Linked DNA regions of Homo sapiens: regions 2, 3, 4 and 5 are each linked to region 1. The links come from fine-mapping of genetic effects on gene expression. A gene starts in region 1. Each other region holds a variant in brackets. All regions are shown on one strand. Distances are from middle to middle. Region 1 holds the start of TBC1D30 (TBC1 domain family member 30). Region 2 overlaps TBC1D30 (TBC1 domain family member 30). Region 3 overlaps GNS (glucosamine (N-acetyl)-6-sulfatase). Region 4 has its middle 22 kb from the start of GNS. Region 5 overlaps GNS (glucosamine (N-acetyl)-6-sulfatase).

Region 1 (4,118 bases):
AGTAAGCTGTGGCAGAGAATCCCAGGCATCCAATCAATGCCTTGATATTTCTTTTTAAAGCTTCAGGGCCATAACCATACTCTGCCTGGATAGATAAGTTTTTTTTTTCTCCGAAGGAATATTAAGTACCACATGGATCCGCCTCTCTCTGAGGTGGTTTAAACGAAGTCCTGCCCAAACATAGAACGGTGATAACAACGGCCACGGGAGTGTTTCCAGCCCAGCGCACGCTTTAAGGCACGCTGAAAACAAGTGAGGTTGCTGTCCGGACGCGAGGTGCTGAATGGAGGAGCGTATAATCATGACGTTTGCTTGATAACAAAGACCAGGAAATTCGGTCCCGCGCTGACTTATTCTTGCCACACTACAAGGATTCCCTGTATGTCTGACCAATATGCTCTTCTGACTTTTCCGGGGCACCTGCTGGGCATCATGCCGATTGCCTTCTCATAGTGAAACCCAGCAGGGGTTAGTTGGCCAAAACCACAACTATCCTCTCATGATCAAAAATGAGCAAGAGGATTTAACTGAAATTGATTCGCCGCCTGCATGCAAAAGCTTAAACCAGGTCACTTTCACCCCACTTTTCTTTTCTTCTAACAGAATACGGGCAGAGAGAAGGTTTATGTTTCATCTGATAATCACAGCTATTCCGGATTCAGAAATACAAAACACTTACTTTTAACGTGGGAAGGAGATTTAAAAGAAAAAAAAAAGAGGTAAAGGAAGATGGTGAATAAATACTACAGCCTCTGCAACTAGACACTTCCTAGGGGAGAACAACAAAGAAACCACGAGGTTGGGAAAGGCAGTGCCGCATCCCACCCTTTGGGACTCTGCAGCTCGATTCTCCTGCGGCTCTACAGCAGGTCCCCAAGGCGCTGGCGCTGGGGGGCGGGGGCCGGGGACCGTGAACCCGCCTGGAACGCAGCCGGTGCCACTCCAGGGAACAGGTGAGCGCCAAGCACCAGTGAGAGTACAGCCAACTCCCTCTGCAGCCACTCCTTGCCAGAAACCTCCGTGCCCAGGAGCCCGCGCTAGGGCCAGGCTCTTAAAATCCCGGGGAGGGATGCCGGGTGATGGAGCCGACACGGAGTTATGCAGTCTGGAGAAGCAGGGATGGGTAAACACAGGCTGACAGTGGGAAGGGCCTTGCCTAGCACGACCAGGCTCGTTCCTGGACCTCACCTATGAAAAGGATCTCCTGCTGCTCCCCACTCGCACTCACAAATTACAGGCTCCAGTTCGAGCTGACCCCGGCACTCACGCTGAAGGGACTCTTGGGAAAATAACACCCGATTTTGCCTTTGCAGCCACTGTCTTCCTCCTCCGACCTGCAGTGTCAAACCTGTGCCACTCTCCGCCCCCACACACCTCTCGCAAGGTCTGGCTTCCTGCGAGCCTGGAACACAATAGGTGGTGCGGCCTCTGAGGGCCCGGGCAGCCACCCGCACTTCCCCGCCACGCGGAGAAAGCCGAGCACACAGGCCGCAGGGTGGGGGTCCGCGGGGAGAGGGTGGAAGCAGCGGGTTCTCCGCGCCTGGGGTGGCCGCTGCCCCACCCAGGCCCCCGTCTGCCCTCTACCCTTCCAGACCAATCGCTCCCTGCAGGTGCCAACGCGGTGCCCCGCACCAGGTGGCACGCGGACTTTCCCCAGAGCTCCCCGGCCTAGACGGAGTCAGGCTAAGGCAGAAGCGCGGGCAGCCCCGGCGCTACTTTACAGCGCCCCATCTGCAGCCCTGGGGTCCTCACCCGGCTCCAGGGTGCACAGCAGCCGGGGCGCGGTCCGGGAAATGCAGCTGCGCTTCTTGAGCACATTGCTCAGGATGGTGCCCACGCCGCCGCCCTGCCGCTTCAGGCATCTCCCCCCGCGCCTCAGAGACCCGGTCAGCTTGTCCTGCCGCATCCGAGAGCGCCCCGGGCTCTGGCACGGCTACCGTCCGTCTCGGTCCCCGCTACCCCACTCGCTGAGCGGCTGAGCTCGCGGAGCTGGGTGAGTGTCTGCGGCTGACCGGCCCGTGGGAGCAGGGAGCGCACAGCCGGCTGGTGCTGGAGGGTCACGGGGACTTACGGGGCACCGCGGGAGCCGCCGAGCGCAGGGAAGCCAGCAGGCATCTGCAGTGCGGAGCCTGCAAGGCTGAGGCAGGAGATCGCTCGAGGCGGGGAGGGCGGGAGCGAGCGAGCGAGCGAGCGCGTGGGAGACGGAGGCGGCGTGCCCGCCCCCAATCCCGGCACCGCCGTGCGCAGGCGGGGCCGCCCCAGCTCCCCCGTGCCCAGAAGCGCCAGAGACAGGGAGCCAGTGGGCGCGTAACTGCGTTCGGGGACCAAAAGCAGAAACAGAGATGTCCGTGCTTCTCCCAAGATCTGGGAGGGAACAGAGGGAGCACCAAGGGGCGCCAGTCTCAGGGGCAGAACACCCGTAAGGGCAAGCATCCTCTCCCACTTCCGAGCAGTCTCAGAAGGGGCCATGACCCAACCGCAGGCGGCGAGGCACACGCTTCAGCCCGAATTGCGTTGAATTATTTCCTGGCAGATTAGAGAGGCGCGGAGAAAATGAAGGAAAAAAAAATTATTGTTTCTTTTAGAAAAATGGGCTTCCAGAAAAAAAGTGTTCTCTTTTCAAGCAGTATTAAAAAGTAATGTTCCTCATCTCTCCAGCCAGACTTCAGTAGTTCTGAACTATTGCCCATCATTATGGTTTAAAAAAAAAAAAGTCATTCTCAAACGGCAATATTCACCAATAGACTATTTACCATTAAAATGGATGAAAGAAAGGGTGTGGGGGGGGGATATAAAGATACTTGTGTTTGCTAATATTTATAAAAAGAAACACTAAATGGATAAACCAAAAACAAATTAGAAAACTTGTATAGGAGAAGGAACATCGTGGAGGAGACAAGAATGGAAAACTGAGTCCTCTCTTGATGTGCCTCCTGTAGTTTTGGCTCTGGAATAACACTATATTAATAATATTAACAAATTAAATTTTTAAAAAACCAGGATGATGGAACAGCATGCCTATAGTCCCAGCTACTTGGCAGGCTGAGGTGGGAAAATTGCTTAGCCCCAAGAGTTTGAGGCCAGCTTGGGCAACATAGCGAGACCCCATCTCTTAAAAAGACATAAAAATAAAAATAAAATTTGAAAATACATAAAATAGTCTGGGCACGGTGGCTCACACCTGTATTCCTAGCACTTTGGGAAGTCAAGGCAGGAGGATGTCTTGAAACTAGGAGTTCAAAGCTGCAGTGAGCTATGATTGCACCCCTGCATTCTAGCCTGAGCAACAGACCTAGTCCCTGACTATAAATGAATAAATTATTTTTAAATTGTAAAAGAAAACCCTAACAATTGAAAATTAATGGAAACAAATCAACCTAATGGACTATCCCACTTATAGCATAAGAACACAGAAAAAAATAATTCTCTCTTAAGTTGACATAGAACACAATATTATGACTGTACATCAACAGTTGTACATATTCCCAGAGCAAATAAAACTGCAAAGAAACCTTACATTTCATTCAGTAGTATTATTGTTATTAATAATATTCATATTTCTTAAATTCTTATATCCACTACAGGATAAAGCAAATAAATAAGTATGCTAACATCAAATGGAGCCAAGATGTTTTCAGTGTAATAGAAAATATGTGTATAACCAAAGTAATTAAGTTTTCTTTAAAATATTACAATTATATATTTATATGGGAAACACTAGTATGAACTCATTTTTTTTTCTTTTCAAAAAAATACATACATTCATTGAATAGGTTTAGAAGTAAGGACAACTCAGCAGCAATGAACACCCACAGCACCCAGGTTATGGTCTCTAAAAACCATTCCCCACTCAAAGGAACTAAGGCTCCTTTGAGGAGTGACTGATTCCAGGTTTGGGACAGAAAAAGTACAAGATGACCCTGAAACATTTTGATGAGCTCAAAAAGAAAGGAAATGTTTCACAATTAATGGGGTCAAGTCAAAAAGACACAAGAGTCACATAAATAGGCTCCTTCCTATTGGCCAAAGATGAAACAATTTGAACTTGAAAAACAATGGCTGAGCCTGGACAACATGGCAAACCCCCATCTCTACAAAAAAAAAAAAAAAGCTACAAA
Region 2 (4,118 bases), 52 kb before region 1:
ATATCTAAAAATCAAGAAACCACTACTTGTTAAGTACTTCTGGTGTTTGCATACAGTGTCCAATACATAGGGAAGATAGCAAGTCCATACTGGTCTTTGTACATGCTGTGTGGTAGAGGCTACTGCAGGTTTCTTTATTTTCTAAAGTAGGCAAGGCTCATAAATTGACCAATTCACATTGTGATTACTTGGTACAATGCATGCATGTTATTGGTACACAGAGTGCTTTAATAGGAATCTGTTGGATTTTCAAAATTCTGACAAGGCCATTTTTACCTCAGAGGACTATTATCCTTTCACTTATTCATTCATTCAACAGATACGTATCCCAAACTGTGTGTTACCTCATCCATCCCCTTCTCAGGAAGACCAACCCTGGAAATAGGTGAGAGGAGAGTGTTCACAGGGCACAGCATGTGTTGTTGATACTAAGTTTGTGGACAGCAATGGTACAATCCCAAGGACTTGTATAAGTGGCCTCTACCTCATTAACCATTTCCTTGAACCCAGACCATCAGGGAGCTAGTGAGCTGATTCAAGAGAGGAAAGAACAATTCTCCATTCAAGTCAGACATCCCTCAAGGGGAACATGACTATTCTGACTCATTTGAGAAGGGGCAAAGAAAAGGATATGAGGTGGAAACACTATTATCTGTAAAGTTTAGCTGATGGAAGAAAATGGTGTCATTTGCTTAACTTTGGAAAATGCAGTGGGTCTCTGGGCCCTGAGGGTGGTATGCAAAATAAGCCCATCTCTCCACCTACAGCCTTCCCAAAAAACAGGCTGTAGGCGTGGCTGCTTTTTAAGAAGCTGGATGCTAACTTCAGATGGCACAGAATTCAAGACCAAAACTGCAATAACTTATTAGTCATATTTTCCATCTTCAGTTCCTTTGGGGGTAAAAATACCACGAAGAAGATAAAATGGCTTTTCTCACGGTATAGGTCATTGTTGTGTTTTCTGTTCAAAAAAAGCCCACACAACCACATTCTCTATTATAAAAAGTAGTACCTCTCATAGTAAAAGCCTGCTCTACAGTTACAGTTTTCGTTTCAGAATTAACAATCCATTAGCTCAAATTAATATTGGCTGCATCAACAATATTCCTGCAAGTATCGCCAATCGTCTTCCAGAGACAAACATGAAGGCTGAGTCTATTCCTCTAATGATGGCGAGGAGAAGGGGATTGAGGAGTGAGCCTTCTGTTCAGCCAAATAACAGGTGCATGAAGCATTTTTAAAATAAACTCCCTGTTCAGGATAAGGAAGTCAGAGCTGGTTTTGTAAAATGCCATCAAGGGACTCTGTACCATCTGGAGACAGGTCCTTTGAGTCAGGAGGGATTTTAGTGAATGGCTTCCCAGTCTTGGTTTTTACACGCTATGTAGCCAATACATCTGTGTACAAAGAGCATTAAACCCACCTATTGCACTGAAGGAAATGTGGCTAAGTCACTTGGAATACCGAGAGTACTGACCTTGAGTAACTGAAGTGCTACTTCACCTCTGTGTGGCTCAGAGTTCCCATCTGCATAGTGGAGACAAGAGGTGCTATCCCTGACCCGCTGGGTGAGAGAGAGCTAGAAAGGGCAGGAGTGAGAGGGAGCTAGAAAGCACTGGGGCCTTCTCCAGAGAAAGGCAGTGTTCAATTAACAAAGTACTCAACAAAGGACTCCAATCAAAAAGCACAAAATTCAAGTAACAGAGTCACAGGTGCTGTGTTCTGGCTTCTGAGCAGAGGCCTTGTGCGTCTGCAGTCTAGAGCTGGTGGGTGAGTGAGCTGTGTGGTGGGGGATGCAGGCCAGGCTCCGCATGGAGCCCATCAAGTCATCCGTACCACTGAGGATCAAAGCTCTCCTTGAGAGGCGAACACAAACCTCAGGAAAAGCTCAGTGGCGCGAGCAAGCTGTCCGGAGCAACTGCGTAAAGCATATGCCAAGTGTGTCCTGTGCATAAGATCTTCAGCTGGGTTATCGATTGAAATTTCAACAGATGAAAGGTTTTCTTCATTTTGCAGGTAGAAATAGACAGTTAAAGAAAGGC[T/C]ATCTAGATTTTTCTCCTATGATTTAGCATAAGAATAAAAAAAAAATTTGAAACTGGTACTGTGGGAAATCTCACACGACACAATCCCCTCCGTAAAGCATGAAAAGGAAAATCAGGAAGTTTTTTGTAACGAAGAAACTTACTTTCTTTTTACAGTTTCTGTCCTAGCAAGCTGGTATGTGCATGCTTGAGTATTAGTAACACCCAGAGAACTGGAAGGTTTGGGGGTGCTGTCACAGGGACTCTGAAGGCCCCCAGAACAGAAGGATGGACGAGAGTTAACAATCTAGATATAGTCTTTTTTAAACAGCTCACAATGAAAAATTGGGAAAACTTCACACTATAAAACCACAATATTTATTTTGCCACAAGAATCCACTTCGTCAGTTAGCAAGTAGCTGGGAAAACAGCCCTGTTCTAACTCCTATTATAAAACTTCCAGTTCCCATTTTTTATGGGCTGTTGCTCATCCCTGAACCTATTCATTTTCACTGGACAAATAAAACTCTTTTAGAGCCATTCAGCTGCAACCCTTATACTACTGTGAAAAGGTGAGTCCAGATACAAAGTTTCGGGGAGACATCATCGTTTTTTAGTGCCACTGTTTCCACCGCCGGGTTTGCTGAAGCTCCTACTCATTTGAGGAAAGTGCACAGTTGGGGTTCTTTCTGTAGGGCCATATAATCCCAAGTTCCTGGCAGTAGCAGATTTCCGCAGGGGCTTGACGCTGGGAAAAGGGCTAAAGATGGGGGTTTTTGAGTTGCTGCCTTGGGGAGCTTTGCTGGTGGCTTTGTTTTCTTCGGGTGCACTCGGCGGCTCTGGGCAGTGCCGCTGGCAGGGTGGGTGCACCCTGAGCTCAGTTTCAGCTGCAGCATCCCTCTGGTTCAGTTCCAGGGCTCCCAACTTCGCCTGAACTGCAGACACATCCACATCAGCATCTCCGAACACCGGCTCCGGAGACTGCCCCTCGATCGTCCTCCTGGTACTGCCTTCAGGGCTGCTGCCTTCTCTCCCAGCTGTCGCTGTACAACCAGAGGGGAATGCCTCTGCTGCCCCCAGCCCATTGGTCTTGCTGGCCTCGTTCTGCTCATCTATCAGCCCTACGGTGTCCCCACAGCCCGGATGACTCTTGGTCCTTGGCATGTTCTTTTTGTGGACTCGGATGTGAGTTCGCCACGGGGAGTTGAGCTTCGTCTTAAGGTCTTCGTAGGGGACAGGAGATATTTTCCCTCCTGTGTGACCAGGGATGTGGATGACAGCATTCTTGGCAGCTCTGTTAGTCATTTTCATCTTCTTTCCTAAAAGAAGGTGGTTTATAACTGGAGAACTGTTTACCTGAGACGGGAGAATGCTGGTCACTGGCCCTTTGTCTGAAAGAAATGTTGAAAGGTAGTATGAAGTGTACCACAAAGAAACACATCCATCTTGGAACAGAAATCACTTAGAGGTCCTCCCAGCCCCGTCTACCACATCCCTTCCCATGTGTTCCCCAGGGAGGGGCAGAGTCATGTGACTGAAGACAGCAGAAACTGAATTCAACCGAAGAGCCTGGAATACCAATGCGCTCTTCTTTAAAGAGGAAGGGACCACAGGGTGATGATACAAAAAGGAACATCTGACCCCTCATTCCTAATCAGAGCCTGGACTCCCTAATTTTTTTTTTTACAGAGAGCTCTTGGCTCTGAGTAGCAACCTCTGAGTTACTGTACTTAGAAAAATCTTTGCAGATTTAAAAAAAATAATACAACAAACACTATGACCATATGGATTATCATCTGTCAGCCTCTGAGAGGTAGGAAAAGAACACACTGCATATTATGAAGTGAGATCCAGCAGAATGACAGAAGTGATAAAAAGGTAGTGAGAATGCAGTGAAATCACAGCTATCCAGCATCTAGCCCTACAGGTGAAAAACCACTCCTGTGTCCTCAATGGACTTCGAAAGCCAATTGAAAACTGAAAAGCACCAAAAGCTTTGTCCTCAGCTAGGTGCCGTGGTTCATGCCTGTAATTCCAGCATTTTGGGAGGCCAAGGCAGGAGGATCACTTGAGGCCAGGAGTTCGAGACCAGCCTGG
Region 3 (4,118 bases), 110 kb after region 1:
GCATCTTTGAATTTGACAAATGGTGCTGTTGCAAACACTTTTTTTTTGAGATGAAGTCTCGCGGTTGTCACCCGGGCTGGAGTGCAGTGGCGTGATCTCGGCTCACTGCAACTTCCACCTCCTGGGTTCCAGCAGTTCTCCTGCCTCAGCCTCCCAAGTAGCTGAGATTACAGGCGCCTGCCACCCCACCTGGCTGATTTTTGTAATTTTAGTAGAGACGGGGTTTCACCATGTTGGCCAGGCTGATTAACTCCTGACCTCAGGTGATCCACCTTTCTCGGCCTCCCAAAGTGCTGGGATTACGGGTGTGAGCCACCGTGCCCGGCCTGCAAACACATTTTAATTGACAACACTAGGGCTGTTGTACAAAATAGTAATGATAGCCATGGAAGTTTTACCTTATTCTGTGAGAAGTGTTCTTAAACTTATTAAGTGTCTAAACTAAGGTTTAGTGCTTTTTTAAAGGAAAGTTGTCCCAGGATTCATCCTAAAGAAAGCAAAAGTTAATTCAACTGATCCACCAATGGAATTAGATGGGTAGAGTTGGGTTCTTGAGTTTTACCACCACTTAGTTCCCACTGAATTTTGTAACTTCCTGTGTTTGCATCCTCTGTTCCTATTCTGCCCTTGCTCTGTGTCATCTCAGTCATTTGACTTAGAAAGTGCCCTTCAAAAGGACCCTGTTCACTGCTGCACTTTTCAATGAATTAAAATTTATTTCTGTTCTAGTGGGAATGTGTCCTTTGTTTTAGTTCACAAGTAGTAATTTTGACAAGATGCTTTCTTCTGATGCAGTTTGTTTTAATCACTCACCTAGTACTGGAAATGGGCTTTCTAGTCAGATCCTATAGTCTCTACCTGTATAGCTCTTACATACATGGCCCCTACTGATAACCCCTGAATGAAGCACCATGTAGAAAATATTTCCTGATAAATCTGTATGTATTTACAGCTTTGGAGAAAAAGTCTTATCTTGGCTGGCTTTCAAACAGACTAGGCTCGCCTTCAAAGGTGCTTTGCCATGTGATCCATTGCTCTAGATGAGGAATGACTTCTTACGGGGTCAACAAACTTCTTATAGGGATAGACGGCCAGTATTTTAGGCTGCCAGGCCATGTGTTCACTGTCACAGCTATTTACCTCTGCTGTTATAACACAAAAGTAGCCATAGAAAATGGATAAGTGTGTGGCTGTGTTCCAATACAATTTTATTTTCAAAAACAAGTAGGTCATAATTTGCCAACCCCAGAGCTTATAGGTTGCCTCATATCTTAGCAATTCTGAAGACCACATAGAAAACAATGCTAGACACTCATAAAATTGCCAGATTACTATCAGAAAAACAGGTGATTTGGGCCAGGGGCAATGGTTCACGCCTTTAATCTCGGCATTTTGAGACCCCAGCAGGAGGATCACTCGAGCTCTGGAGTTGGAAGACCAGCCTGGGCAACATAGCGACATTCTGTCACTATAAAAAATATTTAAATTGTAAAACTGAAAAATAATAGGGGATTTGGATATATCACAATTTTAAGGTCATTTATTAGGGTCTGGGATTTGTACCCTTCTTGCAAGCTAATTAAGTAGGTCTGTTATTTCATGAGACTCCTGGGATAAAGACAAAGGACTGTAGTACAGCACAGCAAGCAGTAAGAGCCTGTCAGTTCACACTTAACACCCAAGTCCTACAGGTATGATGCAAAGGGCCCAGAGGGATGCCTGCACATGCAGTGGGTTTTGTTACAGGAAAAGAACATTAGGCTTGGGGAGGCTTC[A/G]TCCAGGCTGGAGTGCAGTGGCGCAGTCTTGGCTCACTGCAACCTCCGCCTCCTGAGTTCAAGCAATTCTTGTGCTTCAGCCTCCTGAGTAGCTGGGATTACAGGCACACACCACCACACCTGGCTAATTTTTGTATTTTAGTAAAGACGGGGTTTTGCCATGTTGGCCAGGCTGATCTCAAACTCCTGACCTCAGGTGATCCACCTGCCTCGGCCTCCTAAAGTGCTGGGATTACAGGTGTGAGCCACCACACCCAGCTGAGCCTGCTGTTTGTTTGTTTTATAGCAAGCACTGAGCGAGGCTGCTCTTTGTTCCAGAAGGAGACATTAACTTATCCCTCAAACTGCTCACTACAGACAACCCTGAGGAATGGCCAGCATAAAAAGTGGTCAGCCTGGCCAACATGGTGAAATCTCGTCTCTACTAAAAATACAAAAATTAGCCGGGCGCAGTGATAGGCACCTATAATCCCAGCTACCTGAGAGGCTGAGACAGGAGAATTTCTTGAACCCGGGAGGCGGAGGTTGCAGTGAGCCAAGATTGCACCACTGCACTTCAGCCTGGGTTACAAGAGTGGAACTCTATCTCAAAAAAACGGTCAGGACCTTGTGTTCTTGGCATATCCAGCAAGGAGGTGCAAGGATGCTTGGGGTTCATAGTGGATTGCCTCTCCCAACAGCTGTCAACTGTTCAGTAGCAGGGGATCACCTGGCTGGATGTTTCTTCCCCCTCCAGAAGGGCTAGAATGCTAGATCAGGCCAAGAATAGCAATTGTAGACCTAAATGCTTAAGTGAGATTTTTTTTTTTTACCTGGGACCTAAGGCCAAAAGAAACATGGGAAAGAGAAGTGGGTGCTGGCCTTCCATATTTCAAGACAAGACATCAAGAACTTAAAGTGATGAAAAGGGAAAGGATAACAAGATTAAGCATCGGGTCAGATTTAGTGTTGAGAGCTACCTGGTCTGGCCTTTGTCTAAATACTAGAGAAAGGTGGCAGAGAAAGAAGAGCCCCTGTGATCACTGACCAAATACTAATAGAAACGCAAGATGGTACAGAGCACCCGTAAAGTCACTAAATTACCATCCTAAACATTGGAAATTTGATTACATCACAGTCAAGCCATCAACAAGGAGGAAGAGAATCTTCACTTGCATAGACTCGGAATGAAGATAAATACAGACTCCATTAGATCCTTTTTTTTTTTAACTTATCCCAGCTATTCCCACTGAAACTGGTGCCTGCCCTGTAGAACCAAATTCCCTACAGAAGTAGTGTTTGTTTCATCTTCCTCTACCACCAGTGGATTTATTTTTATTTTTTGAGACAGGGTCTCGCTCTGTTGCCCAGGCTCGATGCAGTGGCCCTATGTTGGCACACCACAACCTCTGTCTCCCAGGCTCAACTGATCCTCCCATCTCAGCCTCCCAAGTAGCTGAGACTAAAGGCACACACCACCATGCCCAGCTAATTTTTGTATTTCTAATAGAGACGGGGTTTTGCCATGTTGCCCAGGCTGGTCTTGAACGCCTGGGCTCAAGAGAGCCATCTGCCTTGGCCTCCCAAAGTGCTGGGATAATGGGCATGAACCACTGCACCCAGCCACCACCAGTGGATATAAAGGGCTGGTAATATGTATACACGAAAGTCTGTTGAGGCAAGAGCTGACAACCAGAGAACCCAAAGGATACAAGCTAAAAGCATCGTGCTGAGATCTCTATTGATGGCCTAGAATCACTGAATAAGACAAGATTTAGATGTGGGACATGGGAGCTAGCTCCTGGAGTATGGTAGAGTAGATGACAGTTCTAAATCTTTTTTTTTTTTTTTTTTTTTTTTTTGAGATGGAGTCTTGCTCTGTCGCCCAGGCTGGATTGCAATGGCGCAATCTCGGCTCACTGCAACCTCCGCCTCCCGGGTTCAAGCGATTCTCCTGCCTCAGCCTCCCGAATAGCTGAGATTACAGGCGCCTGCCACCACACCAGGCTAATTTTTGTATTTTTAGTAGAGACGGGGTTTCACCATGTTGGCCAGGATGGTCTCCGACTCTTGACCTCGTGATCTGCCTGCCTCGGCCTCCCAAAGTGCTGGGATTACAGGCGTGAGCCACCGCGCCCAGCCTTAACAATTCTAAATCTTAGTCTTTGAGAGGAAGATTTCATGATCACCTGCTGGTGAGACTGATATCCATATATGTCATCATAACCTGCACCTCTAACTGATGATGATAGGTTCTCAAAGGATAGAGAGATATAAAGATGCTTGTAATTATCATTTTAGGAGGATAAAACAGCTCCATAAGATAGATTTATTTCCCTCAGCTTAATTTATCGAAACTCACAA
Region 4 (4,118 bases), 43 kb after region 1:
CAGCCCTCTGAGGTAGGTATTATTATTATCCCTATTTATAAGAAAGTGAGACACAGAGATGTTAAATAGCTTGTCCAAGGTCACACAGCTGGTAAGGAACTGCGGCCGGATATCAACCCAGGAGTCTGACTCCAAAATTCATCCCCTTAACCAAGGAAATACTGAAGAGAGCCCAGATGTCCTGAGAAACCATTCTGGTGCCTCACCTAAAGGACCTACACATGTTAAATATATAGCTAAATAAGTGCTACAGCAAAATCCCTGGCAGGGAGAGGAGACAATACACAGGCTATCAGTATTGTATGACATTCTTACTGAATGCAGAGTAGTTATATTGGGGGGAATATTTTTTGAGCCTGAGAAAAAGATCAAATAACCTGATAAGCAGCATTCTTTACGCAGACAGCTGTATCATCACCTGATACTTTAATCTTAGCACGCGAATGATGTTATCAATAAAGGGGAGAGGGAGCATGTTAGTGTGTGTATGTGTGCACACGTAAGCACGCATATGTGTGTATAGGACTATTATGATATGGCATTTTGTTCATCTTAATAGGGTTGACTACAAGGGAAGAAAGGTTTAACCAGCAACTAGCTATGCAATAAGACCGAACAGGCAAAACGAACTATTACAGGGCTTGTGGATGGTTAGTTGTGTGGCCACTCATATGAAATCCACTTGCATAGTTAGCTGTACCGTTACTACTTCTTTAAACTTTAGTCTGCCAATTTTCCTCTTCAAAAAGGAAATTACTAATCCCCAGAATTCCCTCGGTGATGAAAAATGTAAAACCTTGTAAAAAGAGAAATCATAATTCTTCAAAATTGATTCTGTTGGAGTCTGAAAGAACTATTGCCCTATGGGACTTGTGGCATACACAGACACTCTGAGAACAACCAAATAATTCTATAAAATGAAATGGCACAGCTACAGCCAAAGTCCCAGGCAGGGGGAGGAACCTGGAAGCTATCTGTAACAATCAGCTGGGGAAAAAAAAAAAAAATCTTCACTAGGAAGTCAAAAGAGGAAGCTAAAAGCTGTTTACGTAGGTCTGAGAAAGCAGACAGATTTATTCTTTTCCTAGGTTTTTTTTTTTTTTAATACAGTGAGGAGATGGGAGACTCTCCTTCCTCCCTCCCCTGGTAACTCAGCCCAAGGACATTACTGTCAAGAAATGTTATGGTGGCTCGGCATCTGTTTTCCATACGTCACCTCATTTTGTAAATGGAGGTCTTGATATTTCTATACCAAAAAAGACAACTCTAATAACTGTGTTACTGCCTGAAAGGCAAGCTATTATGACCAGATGAAAAAAAAAAGTGTGACACGAGCTCAAGACACGAGCATCAGAGTCTCATAACAAAAGAAACACCAAATTAGCCTCTCTCCCTGAAAGCCAAGGCCATTTTCTCAGGTCGACCTCTCCATGCCAACTGAAGGTACCAGCAGTTAAATTCTGTAATAAACCTCAACACTCTAGGGCCCTCCACTAACCTGCCACCGAGAAGGAAAAAAAGAAAACAAAACAACAACAACAAAAATTCCTAGTGAGCTGCCTGGAACCGTACGCTCTGGCAGAAATAGAATTCACACGCTCTGCTTCGAAACCGCATTATCGAATTATTCTGCCTCACTAGTTAAACACTAAGTGGTGTGACCAGAGAAGGCGGACTTTAAAAACAAAAAAACAAAAAAAAAAA[A/G]AGGAAAGAACAGCCCTACGACTCGCCTCGATTCTGGCGGCGCCCTCTAGGTAGGTCAGGTATACGTATCAGAACCTCCAACCCTGTCCTAACAGCTGTTCAGGTGAAATTAGAATCTGGGCTGCCTCTCCCCTGGGGCCTCCGCGAACACACCGGGAGATGGGAGGAGGGAAGAGCGGGGAAACTGCCCACTCCATCAACTGACGCTTGATTCAATTACTCCGGAGAACTTAAGAACTAAGTGTGGACATAAATCTGTGCCACGGTGGGTACCACCGTCAGATCCAAAGAGACAGTATCTGAGCGCTCCGCCGAGCAGCCCAGGTGCGCGCTGGAGCGCGGGCAGAGACGGCGAGGACAACCCGGCTCCAGGAAGCCCCCGGGACCCTGCTGCGCCCGGCCCTCACCTTTCTGCCGCAGGTACAGCATCTGATGCCGCTGGCTCGGTCGCTCCTGCAGCTCCTGCAGCACGCGGGAGTCGCCGGCACCGCTGCGGCCGCCCAGGACCACGTCGGAGCCCGAGGCCTCGGTGGAGCTGTCGAGGCTGTCGCGGCGCCGCCGGCGGCCCTCGGCCCCGCGGCCCCCGCCCGCCGCCTCCTCCTCCTCTGTGCAGCTGTACAGCTCGTTGAGCAGCCCGCTCACCAGGGACGCCGTGCGGCTTGTGCGGCCGCCGCACGCCTCGCCGGGCTCCGTGTCCTCATCGCCGTCCCACGTGTCCCGGGAGCGCCGCGGCCGCTCCGCCGCTCCCCGGAGGCGCGGGGCTGGGGGAGCTGCAGGAATCGTTTCTTCCTCCTGACTCTCCAGCCTCGCCTCGCCACCGCCGCCGCGGAATTCCAGCTCCGTCCGGAGCCCCGGGCGGCCCCCGCCGGTGGGAAGGACGTCCATGGTCCCCGGCGCGCGGCTGCCCGGCTCCCGCTGCTCCTCCCGCCTCGCGGCGCCGGCCAGTTCCGGGAGGAGGCGCGGCTTCGTCCTCGCCGGTGGTGCCCTCCCGGGCGCGGCGCCAGCGGGCTCTGGATCCCCGAGGTGCCCGGGCCTCCCCCGAGCCGGCACCTGAGCCGCTCCCCTCCGCTCCGGACCGGGCGAGAAGGAGACTGCCACGCCACTGAGCTACCTGGGGCCACCTGCTGCCCGGGCCCGGCCTCTACCCAGAGCGCTCTCCCGTGCGCGAGAAGGCGCAGGACGTGGCCAGAACACCGTTGGGAAGAAGCCAGCAGCACGGAGGGGGAGGGCGCTGAGGCCGCCGCCACCTTCACTTTTAATTAAGCACGTGATTTAACTCAAAAAGAGGGTGACTCTTGCCTCTTATTCAGCCGCCAGCTAGAAATAATGCCCAGGAGGGTTCTAAACGCCCATCAATAGGCCCAGGCCAGGAGCTCCTTCTTGACATACTCGGAACACAATACCAGCCCTTCTCACTTTCCCACCTGATCTGAGCGCCTTCAAAAGCCTTCTTAGTTTAGTCTCTGACAATAAGCTTTCTAAAACTCTGAACACCTGGCAAATATCTGGGACTTAATAACGCTGTGAACTTTTTTCCTCCAGTGAAAACCAAAGCACTGGATTAAAATCAACTAATTCCCTGATACAAGATGTAACCAGAGTGAGGGTTTAATAAATGTTCTTGAGATGACCGAACTGATACATTAATTGAGCTAGTTTTGATGATGGTAGAATCAAAAATTTACAAGATACTGTGAGAGATGTATCTTACACTAGACCTCAATAGAACTCGGAACTGCCGCTCCACTGTAGATATTTTTGTGAAGTTAATAATTGGCAACATGTTTAGCGCTTTTTGTATGTCAGGCACTGTTCTTAGAGATTTGCATGAATTATCCCACTTAATCCTCACTTTAACCCTATAAAGCAGTTAAGTGTCGTTATATTCTCACTTTTCAGCTGAGGGAGCTGAGGCACGAAGAGGCTAAATAACGTGTCCATTCACAAAGAATAAAGTGAACTTTTCATAAAGTGTCTGGCTTTCATTATGGATGAATATATATTAGTCAAATGCTATTAAATACTTGACCACACTTCCAAAAGGGGCAACAACACACCTGGTGAACAACACTGGTGTTTCGTGTTTGTTCAGCACAGTTTTGTCTTCCAAGGCACTTTCATAATAGAGCCTGACCCTGCCGGTAGAAATCTGGTGTACCTTGACACCAGCACTGCAATAAAAGGGCCCTTTTTGAAACTGGAGTTAATATGAGACAAGCAGAAGTTGTACTTTTCGCTTAGGTATTCGGAATTTTAAATTATACTGGAAATATTATTTTATGGTTTTATAACTATATTAATGACTATTGTTACCATTTAATGTTTAAATGTATGAAATGAGAGTAGAATTCATTATTATATTGCTGTTTTGTTTTTTGAGGTCTTTTTCCCTGTTGTCCCTGGCATTCAACGAG
Region 5 (4,118 bases), 93 kb after region 1:
TGTCTCAGTGCCAGCTGTTCTGTGTGAGTGGCACAGGCTTGTGAGTTGGGCATAATGAGCTGAGCTGTCAGCAGCCTTGACAGCCAGATCAGTGCACATTTAACTGACTGGTGGACTTAAGCTGTGTGGGAGAAATGGGACAAGGTCATATGTGTAGATGTCAAAGATTGACTATTGACGTTTTCTCCTCTGACTAGTTTAGCTTTAGATTTGGTGGTAGAAGTTCTGCAAAAGGAATTCTAAAAAGGAAAAGGTTAGTAGGAAAACTAGAATGACACAGCACCGTCCCAGGGAAATAGAACTGAACTGGGAGTCAGGAAGACGACCTGTTGGCTTTGGACAAAATCAGCCTTGGTTCCCCTACTTTTGTAAAAGTAAGAGGATGTTAAGCCTCCATTATCAGGTGGAACCAGGTGATGCCCCAGCTTCTTCCTTGTCAGGAAAGCTGGAACTGAGGGGCAAGTCCAGCTGAAGCAACCAAGATATGGGATTCTGCACTTTCTCATGTAGTTACAGTGCTTTTCACTAAATGGATTTGGGGTGCTTTCTGGTATGTTTGGAGCCTTTTCTTTGATAACTCTACAGAAATTCAACATCAGGGTTTGGGTGTCTGGAAACCTGATGTGTTCTGAGAGCCCGTTGCCATCTTGTTCTTTTCAGTAATTATGCAAGTGTCATTCTTTCAGAGCAAGAATAAGCAGGTTCAATGCATGATACCCTTTGATTTAAGCCCCAGGAATTTTTTTTTTTTTTTTTTTTTTTTTTTTTTTGAGACAGGGTCTTGCTCTGTAACTTAGGCTGGAGTGTGGTGGCACAATCTTGGCTCACTGCATCCTCCACCTCCCAGGCTCAGGTGATTCTCCTACCTCAGCCTCCTGAGTAGCTGGGACTATAGGTGCACACCACCATGCCCAGCTAATTTTTGTTTTTTGTTTTTTGTTTGTTTGTTTGTTTTTGTAGAGACGGGGTTTCATTATGTTGCCCAGGCTGGTCTGGAACACCTGGGCTCAAGCAATCAGCCCTCCTCCCCTCATTACAGGCATGAGCCACCACAGCCAGTCTACCCCAGGGTTTTCTAAGGACTTTCATTTGATTAGGATATTTATATACTTAAATCCTAAGAACATTCTCAACCTGAGAAAGTGATTTATCAAATAATTTATTTTTTTGTCTGGGCATGGTGGCTCACGCCTGTAATCCTAGCACTTTGGGAGGCCAAGGCAGGTGTGGATCACCTGAGGTCAAGAATTTGAAACCAGCCTGGCCAACATGGTGAAACCTTGTCTCTACTAAAAATACAAAAATTAGGCCAGGCGCGGTGGCTCACGCCTGTAATGCCAGCACTTTGGGAGGCCGAGGCAGGCGGATCAGGAGGTCAGGAGATCGAGACCATCCTGGCTAACACAGTGAAACCCCGTCTCTACTAAAAAATACAAAAAATTAGCCAGGTGTGGTGGCGGGCGCCTATAGTCCCAGTTACTCGGGAGACTGAGGCAGGAGAATGGTGTGAACCCAGGAGGCGGAGCTTGCAGTGAGCCAAGATCACACCACTGCACTCCAGCCTGGGCAACAGAGTGAGACTCCATCTCAAAAAAAAAGAGGCTGGGCGCGGTGGTTCACACCTGTAATCCCAGCACTTTGGGAGGCTGAGTCAGGCGGATCACGAGGTCAGGAGATCGAGGCCATCCTGGCTAAAACGGTGAAACCCCGTCTCTACTGAAAATACAAAAAAAGTAGCTGGGCGTGGTGGCAGGCGCCT[G/A]TAGTCCCAGCTACTTGGGAGGCTGAGGCAGGAGAATGGCATCAAACCGGGAGGCAGAGCTTGCAGTGAGCTGAGATCGTGCTACTGTACTCCAGCCTGGGTGACAGAGTGAGACTCCGTCTCAAAAAAAAAAAAAAAACAACAAAAAAAAAAAATTAGCCAGGTGTGGTGGCAGGTGCCTGTAATCCCAACTACTTGGGAGGCTGAAGCAAGAGTATTGCTTGAACCCAGGAGGTGGAGATTGCAGTGAGCCGAGATCGCACCATTGCACTCCAGCCTGGGCAACAGAGCAAAAAATCTGTCTCAAAAAATAGATATATTTTTGGTCTTGTCAAAGCTTTTTCTGTTCCAATCCGTAAATGATTTTTTTGTTTGTTTGAGATAGGTGCTCTCTCACCAGGTTGGAATGTGGTGGCTCAAACATGGCTCACTGCAGCCTTGGCCTCCTGAGCTCAAGTGATCCTCCTGCCTTGGCCTCCCAAAGTGCTGGGATTACCAGCGAGAGCCACTGTGCCCAGCCCTTAAATGAATTTTTAAGTTTATACTAGACAAAAGCAATACTGTGAAACTAGTGTTTCTCAAAGTCATCACATTGATGGGTGAATCCATCCAAATTCTTGGTTATATAAAAACCAGAGGTAGGTATAATTCTTTTTAACTCTTCATTCATACTTGGTATTTGCTAGAAGTCTCCCATCTCCTGATATAGTATGCTAATTTTGAGACTGTCCGCTTATTCAAATAAAATTCTAGAAGAGGAGACATTTTATCCATTATATTTAGGGGAGTGTGATCATTATAGATTTCTAGGGAGAAGGAGTCCTGGAATGACTTGTGCTTACGGTACTTGTGCTGAATCTTAGTGACTTTGGATTTATACTGGAACTTACCCCTTTATCTCCAGAGAGCAAAATGCCATTAGAAAGAGCCTCGGCTGGGTGCAGTGGCTCACGCCTGTAATCCCAGCACTTTGGGAGGCCAGGGCAGGCGGATCACTTGAATTCAGAAGTTTGAGACCAGCCCAGGCAACATGGCATTGCTACGAAAAATAAAAAAATACAAAATTTAGCTGGGCATCATGGTGTGTACCTGTAGTCCCAGTTGCTCTGGATGCTGAGGCAGGAGGATCAGTTGAGTCTGGGAGGTCAAGGCCACAGTGAGCTGTGATTGTGCCACTGCACTCCAGCTCGGGTGACAAAATGAGACCCTGTCTCAAAAAACAACAAAACAAAAAAGAGCTTCCCCCCACCTCACCAAAAAAGGAACAAGCCTCCCATTATACAGGTGGTGGCTCTTGCAATTTTTGGTGAGATGACAGTCACCATTTTATATCTCTGGGTTTTTTTATGTTTCCTCTTTTCTTTTAAAACTGCCTTGGACATCATAGTAGTATCTGAGGAACTGGCTTCACCTCATTCATTTTACAGATATCACTGAAGATCTGTTAGTCACACTTCAGGGTCTGTAGATGGCTTGTTGTCTTGATCTCATTCTGGAGATGGTATCTCTCTCTGACCCTCCTTTCCTGCTGTGACCTCTTCCATATTGACATTCACACTTGATGACTGTTTTCCAAGCTGCTCAGTTTGCCTGGGGGTCTTCGAACCAGGAAAATTATCTGTAACAGTGGGTCTTGTATCATCCCTGGAGACATCGTTTTTTGTGTGTGAGGTTTTTCCCCCACTGAGTAACATATGGATTGCCTTTCTCCTGAAGTGCCTGCCTTTGGGCAGTAATACCTGACAGCTGCAGAGTTAGACTAATTGATTCAGGGCCAGGATATTTATCATTCTGCCCTCTAAGAGCTGTCCTGGCCATCAGGAAACCTGGCCCCTGATAATATTCTGAAGCTTTTTTTTTTTTTTTTTTTTTTTGCCTTTCATATCTGTACTTTTGGTTTTGTTTTTAAATTAAAAGTGGCAGGGCTGGGGTGTTTTTGTTTTGTTTTATCTCCCTGTTTGGCCTCTCCTAAGATGATCTAAATGTTCTCAACAGTTTTGAAGACTGTTACTTCCTGTCAGTAAGTAATGGCTTTTCCAGTTATAAGCTGATAACTTTGCTTCAGTGATTTGTGTTTCATTTCTTCACCTATAAACACTGTGTCCAAGGACTGTGATGAGGAATAAATGAGAATAAATGTCAAATGCCTGGCACAGTAAACTTTAGTTCCCAGTTTTTCTCACTTCCTCTTTGTTTCGCTCAATGGATTGTTTCAGTGCTTGAAGATTTTTCTAGCCTGTGACCAAGTGACTTCTATGCTTACATTCTCTCTAGGCCTGCATTATCCACTTGTGGCTGTCGAGCACTTGAAATGTGGATAGTCCAAATGGAGATGTATTATTATTGTGAAATACCAGAT

The links.
Region 2: its variant is fine-mapped to the expression of TBC1D30 in pancreas (GTEx, PIP above 0.99). The same link has a PIP of 0.9 or more in breast, esophagus mucosa and thyroid.
Region 3: its variant is fine-mapped to the expression of TBC1D30 in whole blood (TOPMed, PIP above 0.99).
Region 4: its variant is fine-mapped to the expression of TBC1D30 in whole blood (TOPMed, PIP above 0.99).
Region 5: its variant is fine-mapped to the expression of TBC1D30 in whole blood (TOPMed, PIP above 0.99).

What each region holds. Positions count from the first base shown.
Region 1 is chr12:64,822,668-64,826,785 of GRCh38, reverse strand. TBC1D30 (TBC1 domain family member 30) reads right to left here and starts at 2,139. Exons shown (of 12, transcript NM_015279.2): 1 at 1,753-2,139. The coding sequence starts at 1,906. RefSeq lists an enhancer at 934-1,441 and a silencer at 2,080-2,319.
Region 2 is chr12:64,874,295-64,878,412 of GRCh38, reverse strand. It overlaps TBC1D30 (TBC1 domain family member 30), which reads right to left. Exons shown (of 12, transcript NM_015279.2): 12 at 1-3,412. The coding sequence ends at 2,625. Among named protein-coding and RNA genes, the nearest start is that of LINC02389, 7.4 kb to the left of the region's middle. The variant T/C (reference allele first, on the strand shown) is at 2,043.
Region 3 is chr12:64,710,059-64,714,176 of GRCh38, reverse strand. It overlaps GNS (glucosamine (N-acetyl)-6-sulfatase), which reads left to right. Exons shown (of 14, transcript NM_002076.4): 14 at 1-728. Among named protein-coding and RNA genes, the nearest start is that of GNS, 47 kb to the left of the region's middle. The variant A/G (reference allele first, on the strand shown) is at 1,776.
Region 4 is chr12:64,779,280-64,783,397 of GRCh38, reverse strand. It overlaps a transcript of TBC1D30 not described here. Among named protein-coding and RNA genes, the nearest start is that of GNS, 22 kb to the right of the region's middle. RefSeq lists silencers at 2,368-2,467, 2,548-2,827. The variant A/G (reference allele first, on the strand shown) is at 1,705.
Region 5 is chr12:64,729,950-64,734,067 of GRCh38, reverse strand. All of the region lies in intron 9 of GNS (glucosamine (N-acetyl)-6-sulfatase), which reads left to right. Among named protein-coding and RNA genes, the nearest start is that of GNS, 27 kb to the left of the region's middle. The variant G/A (reference allele first, on the strand shown) is at 1,760.